Linked DNA regions of Homo sapiens: regions 1 and 3 are each linked to region 2. Evidence: fine-mapped expression QTL. A gene starts in region 2. Each other region holds a variant in brackets. All regions are shown on one strand. Distances are from middle to middle.

Region 1 (2,761 bases), 200 kb before region 2:
GCCAAGGCTAAGCCCACGCCTGTGACACAGCCTCAGGAAGTCCTGACGACATTTCCCCAAGGCTGTAGGGTAGAGCTTGGTTTTATACATTTTAGGGAGATATGAGACATCAATCAATACATGTAACAGTACATTGGTTTGGTCCAGAAAGGCAGGATAACTCAAAGCAGGGGCTTCCAAGTTATAAGTAGATTTAAAGATTTTTGGATTGGCAATTAGTTGAGTTGTTATCAATAGAAAGGAATGTCTGGGTTGAGATAAGGGGTTGTGGATGCCAAGGTTTGATCATGCAGATGAAGCTTTTAGGTAGCAGGCTTCAGGGAGACCAGACTGTAAATGTTTCTTATCAGACTTAAAGAGTCTGTTCTGTCAGTAATTCCAAAAGGGAGGAGGGAATGATGAGGTATGTCCAGCTCCCAGTTCCTGTCAAGGCCTGAACTAGTTTTTCAGGTTAACTTTGGAATGCCCTTGGAAGAGAGCAGGAGTCCATTCAGATAGTTGGTGGGGCCTTACAATTTTATTTTTGGTTTACAACAATATCAAAATTACCTAATGACACACTTCTTAGAATGTACCCCTGTCGTTAAGTGACACATAATTGTAGATAGATGGAATGGAATGGAATGGAAATAAAATGATGGAGGCAAAGGCACAGAATAAGAAGACAGTAAAAGAGAAAGCTGGGCTGGGAAGAAAGAAAGGAGGAGGAGTACAGAACGGATGGCCAGGTGGCCCCTAAATCAGAGTGTGGACTGCTTATTAAGGTGCAACTCCAGAGCCTCTCCCCTGACCTCTCCCCTGACCGGCTGAACCCAAATCTCTGAGTCTACTTTTCAACAAGCTCCTTGGGTGATTCTTATACTCATGAAAGTTTGGGAACCACTGCAGCCTAGCCTGGGCTAGCCAAGGCAGCAGCCACTAGCTGTGTGTGGCCATTTAAATGGGAATAAGCTAAAATTAAAGATTCACTTCCTCCCTCACATGAGCCCCATGTTAAGTGCTCAATAAGCACATGCGGCCGGGGCTATTGGGCCCCACCATCCATGTGAGGTATTGACTCCCAGCTCTCTCCAGTTGCCCGGACACAGGAAGGGATGACTGCCCCATCCTCAGTCAGGCAGTTCTCTCTACATCCTCGGAGGGTCCCTGCAGGCCTGGTGACTATGGATTTGGCGGGAGTCTTCCGTGTGTCTAACAGTGATGTGGGCCAGACTCCCAAATGTATCCCCAGCTCCACCCAAGCGCCAACCCAGACCTGTGGTTCCTGATCCCCTACAGAGACGGCAGGTCATCGAGTGGCCACAACATCTCCTTAGGCCCTGTCCTGCAAGGTCTCTGCAGAAGAGGGGCCAGTGTTGAAGACTGAGCACTTTGGGCAAGGTCCTTTCTTATTCTTGTCCCCACTCACACAGGCAAGCTGTGGCTTCAGAATGACAAAGTGGAACCAGGCTGTGCAGTTTCCTAGCAAATGTCCACCTGGGGCCCGAATGTGGTGTGTGGAGGGTGTGCACACTGTCACAGGCAGCCCAGGGAGGCAAGCAGTGTGACCCCCATCCACAGATGAGACTCAGAGAGGCTAAGGTGCGGGCTTAGCTCACACTGGCGAGGGGTGGTCTGGATTTGAATCCAGGCCTAGCTGATCCTCAGACAGT[G/C]CTCCTATGATCCTGATTTCTCTCTGCTTTGTCCCCAAAGCCGGGCCTCAAGGGGCCTTGGTTCCTGGCTCCAACCCAGAGAGTATCCTGGCCATCAGTCCCCAAAATCAAACATGCATCTCACCCCTTCCTACTGTGGGTCTGGAAGGATTCCTGGATGAGACCATCTTGATAATCAATGTTAGGATAATATGGTTTGGCTGTGTCCCCACCAAAATCACAACTTGAATTCTATCTCCCAGAATTCCCACATGTTGTGGGAGGGACCCAGGGAAGGTCATTGACTCATGGGGTCCGGTCTTTCCCGTGCTATTCTCATGAATAAGTCTCATGAGATCTGATGGGTTTATCAGGGGTTTCCGCTTTTGCTTCTTCCTCGTTTTTCTCTTGCCACCACCATGTAAGAAGTTCCTTTTACCTTCTGCCATGATTCTGAGGCCTCCCCAGCCATGTGGAACTGTAAGTCCAATTAAACCTCTTTTTCTTCCCAGTCTCAGGTATGTCTTTATCAGCAGCATGAAAATGGACTAATACACAGGATATCCCTTCCTTCCAGTTAAAGAGGAACACCTCATCCAGGAATTCCCGGTGCTGGGACAGCCTCCTGTTTACCCCTCGGCCTGCTCCGTCCCGGCAGATAAGGAAGAGCCACCCATTCTCTCCGCCACACCAGTGCAGGTTTCCTGCCGGACTCCAGGCAACTGCTTCCTAGCCAGGCTTTTTCCCAGGGGCTGGGGGTGGAGGCCACAGGCTCTTCAGCTTGTGAGAAAGTAGGGGAGAGGGAGCCCTAGAGAAATACCAGTAGGTAGGGAGGTGGTGAGAAGGGGCCCCGGCCTGCCTGTGGTGGGCTGTGCGAGACCCATGGGCCCTGCCCTCTAGCACACACAGAAAGCCCCTTGGCTTTCCACAGAAGACTGACCACTTTTCTCCAGCCATGACCCCTTTGCCCCTGCACCTGATGCAAAGCCAGAGGCAGAGCCACACAAGAAGCAGACTGACCCCACTGGCCACCCGGCCGGCCAGCACTGGGCAGATCTGCAGGGCTGGCTCCCCTTGGATGCACCAAGACCCAGCAGTGGGCGCCGTAGCGCCTGCCCACCAACAACAAA
Region 2 (2,761 bases):
TGAGCCCACATACCAAACACTGGCCACTGGGGAAAACTAAATGTGCTAATGTGCGTGTAACAACAGATCTTGGGTTATCAATATTTTTAAAAAACACTGACAATGGCAAATATTTATATATATATATATATATATATATATATATTTCCTTACAGCAGAAATAAAAAGGAACAGTAAAATCTTAAGAACTGCTAGTAATTTGCTGCACCCTGATGTAAAATTGCCTTTATTGGTTAAACTAAAAGACTAAACCCAACAAAATAGCTTTTAGAAAAAATGTGTTAGAAAGTTGGACAGAAAAACAATGAGTTGAAACTGCAAACATTGACAGCACTGGCTTTCCATGTGATTATCACCATAATTCTGAACGCATTTAGTTCATCCCATGACAAGGGAAATAAGACAAGCTAAACTCTGCAGGGTAGAGAAGAGTCCAAAAGGAAAACTTTGGTTGTCTTCCTTGGGTGAAGAGAACTCTCAACTACTATCAGTTTGACAAAGACACGCAGAATCTGGGTGAAGCAAGAATTCGAGCGGTCCCTAGGAATATACAATATTTTCCCGAAATCCACACGCGCGGAGCGGGATATATTTCTAAAAACAAAAAACAAACTGCATGAATTGCAAATGAAGCAATAGGAGTTCAGCATCCAATAGGTGGCTGGTCATCTTTCTGGTTCGTTAGGTCAAGACGTCCTTCTCACCTACGACCCTCAGAGAAGGACTGACTCCCTCCTCTGTAACCTCTCCCTGGAAGCCAACCTTTGCCATCTCCTGCCATCCTCTCAGTCAATCCGCCAGGACCCGGGACACGCCCCCACGAATGACTACTTTCCTCCGAGATGCAACTCTGCCCCGTGTCATCCGCAACCTCCAGTCTCAGGGCCTCTTTGGCCTCAGGGTCCCCGGTGCCTCCCTCCTCAGTCCCTAAAGGCTGCCCTTAGGGCTCTCCTGGTTCCCCGTTCTCAGTCCTGGCCCTTCTCTCAAGCCTGGGGTCCCGGATTTCCCTCCACACGCGCGGGAGATGCCGACTCTCCCGTCCCTACCCGGTCTCCCAGTCCCGCGGCGCCGGGCGGCGGCGCGCCGAAAGGCATCCACTGAGGAAACAAGTGCCTGCAACGTTCCGGCTGCGAACTCACCTCCAGTCCGGGCTCTCGGATGCTGGCCCGGAGCCGGGCTTCCGCCTGGCGCGGTCCGCGTCGCGAGCGGGACCGGAAGTCCCGCCCCTCGCCCGCTCCCGGCCCGCTCCCGGCCCGCTGGCCTCGCTTGACTACCGCTCCCCGGGAGAGGGATCGCCGGCGGCGGGCGACGGGCGGCTGGCAAGGGGCAGAGGGCAGAGGGGCTTGGCTTGAAAGGGCGAGGCAGGCGCCAAAAAAATTCCCTCTCGCGCTCCTGCTCTTTCTAGTGTATCCATCGACCAGTGTGCAAATGCTTGACCAAGCGTCTATTCTGCCCAAGCCCAGTGAGGCACAAGATGACTCAGACACTGACCTCTGTCCTCACAATCTAGTTAAAAGTTGACATAAGTAAAAACAGAAGTAAATCACGCCACAAGACAGTGTTTCTTCTTTCATTATTCAGATTATTATCACCTGCTATATAGGCCTGTGAACAACCAGGCACTGCTGTAGGGGCTGGGGATAGAGCGAACAGAGGACAGCCCCACTCTCGTGAGGCTTACACTCAGGGCGAGGAACTAGCTATAGAATAAATCGAACAGCGGCGGCTCCCTCGGGAGGCTTATGCACAGAAACAAAAATATATAAGCAATGAAACCATCAAGTGTTAGAGGCACTCTGGTGGTGCTGTAGGGAACGGTGCAATGTAGAGAGCTGGGCGGAGAAGGCTTTCTAGAAATAATGACTCTTCAATTGAGACTGAAATAAATGATGAATAAGAGTTAAAGGACAGGCACAGTGGAGAAGGGCATGCAGAGAAGAAGGACGTTATGGAGTGAGAGCTTGGCTTGTACCGGTAGCTGGCCAGGAGTTAAGCAAAGTGTCAGATGGCAGATGCAAGAGCAAGCATAATGAGAAGAGACAAGGCCAAATCATGAAGAACGTTGTGCCCTATGCTTAAAAATTTTGGACTTCAGAGACTCCGTGCAACGGAATCCGTGGGGTCATCTAAGGGAATAGACAAAACAGTGAGTCATGGGGTTGACTAGGGGGATTGTCCTAGTCATCAAAGAAAAATAATACATCATGAATAGCATGTTTTATCCTTGAGGGTGCTTTCTTGAACTGCCATACCCAGATGTAAAGGCAATAGACGGCTACCACAACCCTATAAAGGCAGGACCACAAGGGATCATACCCCTCAGGTTGCTGCATTGAGCAAATCACCCCAACCAACTGAGATGCTAACTGAAGTCACAGGGAACTATGGAATGGGCCCAGAAGAAAGAAGCTTCAACACCAGCTACAGTAATGAGGACTGTTGCATTTTTTGTTTGTTTTCTTTGCTACCAGTGTTTAATAAATACTCTCTTGCACACCAAGCCCTTTCTTTGCCTTTTTAAAAAGGAATGGTATAATACATACATTTTTCTTTTTTTCTCCTTTTGCCAGCAAAAGGCCATACATTGCAATATATGGAGATAGGATTACAGTAGAAGAAAATGAGGAATGGATATCGTGTAGAAAGTCTGTACTTAGAGGGCATAACATCAACTCTAAGTGAAGTAAAAGGTCACGCGTTTGGGTTTTCTCCCATTGGGAAGGTTAGTAGTCCATTTGTGGTGATACTTGAAATAACTGAT
Region 3 (2,761 bases), 120 kb before region 2:
TGATCCAGGAGGCAAGAACTAATCTCATCATTTTCTAAATGTGCCATCTCAGCAAGATCTGCTCATTTATGCTTCAGTTTACTGAAGAATATAACCTCCCTTTTGTTGTTAACAAAAGAAAAAGCCATATGCAAAGGTTATGAAAATAACAAAACATAAAGGACATTTAAAGAAGCACTGGACGTTTTTTAAAAAAGCTAATTGAAATTTAAGATGTTTAATTGTGTCTTAGATAATGTAGGAAACAATCACTAGATGAGATCAATGTAATTATTTCCCAGAATTAGAAACTCTCATTGTACGAGCACTCCATTCAAAGAAATCACTGCAGGCACACGCTTTTCTCCAACCTCCACCTGTACCTCAGTTAAACTATCACAGCTGATGGGAATCTGCTGGGCTAAATGGGAAAGTCAACTCCTCCTGCCCTTTCCATCAGGAGGGCTGAAGGAAAGAATACTTCTAATTTGTTAGTTTGTTTTTACCATCCCAGGTTGGTTAATGTATCATCTCAAATAGTCTACTTTTTCCTAGGTATTTAATTCAATCAATTCTACTGATTCTAATCACAGATGCTGGGTAAGTCATGCCAGTGAGAAGCATCTAATAACAACAAATGACTTAAAAGTTTCAAAGTGAAACTGGCTGATAGGGTTTGGATCTGTGTCCTGCCCAAATCTCATGTCGAACTGTAATCCTCAGTGTTGGAGGTGGGGCGTGGTGGGAGGTGATTGGATTATGGGGCTAGATTTCCCTCTTTGTGCTGTTCTCATGATAGTGAGTGGGTTCTCCTGAGATCTGGTTGTTTAAAAGCATGTGACACATGTCCCCGGCCAACTTTCTCCTTCTCTGGCCAGCTTCCCCTTTACCTTCTGCCATGATTGTGAATTTCCTAAGGCCTCGCCAGAAGCTGAGCTGGTGCTGCCATATTTCCTGTACAGCCTGCAGAATCGTGAGCCAATGAAACCTCTTTTCTTTATAAATTACCCAGTCTCAGGTTATTTTTTTTTCTTTTCTTTTTTTTTTTGAGATGGAGTCTTGCTCTGTCACCCAGGCTGGAGTGCAGTGGCGCGATCTCGGCTCACTGTAAGCTCCACCTCCCAGGTTCATGCCATTCTCCTGCCTCAGCTTCCCAAGTAGCTGGGACTACAGGCGCCCACCACCACGCCTGGCTAATTTTTCATATTTTTTAGTAGAGACGGGATCTCAC[C/T]GTGTTAGCCAGGATGGTCTCGATCTCCTGACCTCGTGATCCGCCCGCCTCAGCCTCCCAAAGTGCTGGGATTACAGGCGTGAGCCACTGCGCCCGGCCTTTTTTTTTTTTTGACAGGATCTCCATCTGTTGCCCAGGGTGTAGTGAAGTGGTGTAATCTTGGCTTACTCACTGCAACCTCCACATCCTGGGTTCAAGTATTCTCCCACCTCAGCCTCCTGAGTAGCAGGGATCACAGGTGTGTGCCACCACACCCAGCTAATTTTTGTATTTTTTGGTAGAGACAGGGTTTCACCATGTTGGCCAGGCTGGTCTCGAACTCCTGACCTCAGGTGATCTGCCCACCTCGACCTCCCAAAGTGCTGGGATTAGGATTACAGGCGTGAGCCACTGTGCCCAGCCCAGGTATTTCTTTATGGTAGTGCAAGAACTGAATACATTGGGCTTCAGACAGAATCCCATCAACCTCTAACTCCCTTCAAAGAACCCTGAAATCCCCTCTAGACCCTCCTCAATCTTCATGTTTTCCTATCTTCTAATTAAATCTGCTTATCCTCAGTAAAAAAAAAAAAAAAAAAAAAAAAAAATTATTTTTCTTCATAATCAGAATCACAACTATCATTCTCTTTTAAATTTATTACAAATGTATCGTTTTGTAGTTACACAAGAGTTAAATAGATTCTTATATGCCAGCTGGGGACCTAATCATCACTTATAACATGTTTTTTCCACATGGTAAAATGCAGTTCAAATGCCAAATAACTGACTTACAAATGAATTTTTGGAACACAACCTATTTTGTAACTTGGGAGACTTCTTGTAATGAAGTAGGAACTAGTAAAGAATAATTTGAACTCTGACTTTGGCTTGTATTTGAAGCAAGTCACATGAGTGTTCTCTGATTCCATTTCTTTAATTATAACATGGGACCAATCAATTTGACCTCATAAGTATGTAAAAAGTACAGGTAAAAAAATTTAGAAGCAAAAACAGAAAAAATATTTTATGAACTGTCTATAGATTATTTAAGTTCAATGGATGCATTTGGGTAGGTGTTCAGGTGACCAGCCAGAATAGGAAAGTATTTCACTCTGAGATCAGGAGTTAACCCTAAGGCCCATACAGAGAAAGATCATCCCTTCCCCCTCTTCATCCCGTCCTTCCTTCCTTCCTTCCTTCCTTTTTTTTTTTTTTTTTTTTTTTTTTTTTAAAGACAGGGTCTTGCTCTGTCACCCAGGCTTGAGTGCACTGGTGCGATCATGGCTTCCTGCAGCCTAGACCTCCCAGGCCCAAGCAATCCTCCTGCCTCAGCCTCCTATGTAGCTGGGACCATAGGCATGTACCATCATGTCATGCTAATTTTTAATTTTTTTGTAGAGGTGGGTTCTCCTATGTTGCCCAGTCTGGTCTCAAATCCCAGAGCTCAAGCGATCCTCCTGCCTCAGCCTCCCAAAGTGCTAGGATTACAGGATGAGCCACCATGCCCAGCCTCCTTTTTCTTTAGAACTGAGATAAATGAGGAAAAAATCCAGTCTGAGCCTAAGACGGAGG

Which allele goes with the higher level. Positions count from the first base shown, and alleles are read on the strand shown. Sizes are in standard deviations (SD) of each study's normalised expression.
In carriers of allele C in region 1, the expression in thyroid of the gene that starts at base 1,179 in region 2 tends to be higher than with G alone (small effect, 0.29 SD a copy in GTEx).
For the expression in cerebellar hemisphere of the gene that starts at base 1,179 in region 2, allele T in region 3 goes with a higher level than allele C (moderate effect, 0.67 SD a copy in GTEx).

The links. PIP is the estimated chance that this variant, and not a neighbour inherited with it, causes the effect.
Region 1: its variant is the best candidate, but not a certain one, in a credible set for the expression of DISP1 in thyroid (GTEx, PIP 0.89).
Region 3: its variant is the best candidate, but not a certain one, in a credible set for the expression of DISP1 in cerebellar hemisphere (GTEx, PIP 0.89).

Annotation. Positions count from the first base shown.
Region 1 is chr1:223,017,045-223,019,805 of GRCh38, reverse strand. No RefSeq gene overlaps it. Among named protein-coding and RNA genes, the nearest start is that of TLR5, 120 kb to the left of the region's middle. The variant G/C (reference allele first, on the strand shown) is at 1,653.
Region 2 is chr1:222,813,457-222,816,217 of GRCh38, reverse strand. DISP1 (dispatched RND transporter family member 1) reads right to left here and starts at 1,179. Exons shown (of 9, transcript NM_001377229.1): 1 at 1,140-1,179. RefSeq lists silencers at 1,219-1,318, 1,409-1,488 and an enhancer at 1,729-1,788.
Region 3 is chr1:222,938,392-222,941,152 of GRCh38, reverse strand. All of the region lies in intron 2 of DISP1 (dispatched RND transporter family member 1), which reads right to left. Among named protein-coding and RNA genes, the nearest start is that of DISP1, 120 kb to the right of the region's middle. The variant C/T (reference allele first, on the strand shown) is at 1,211.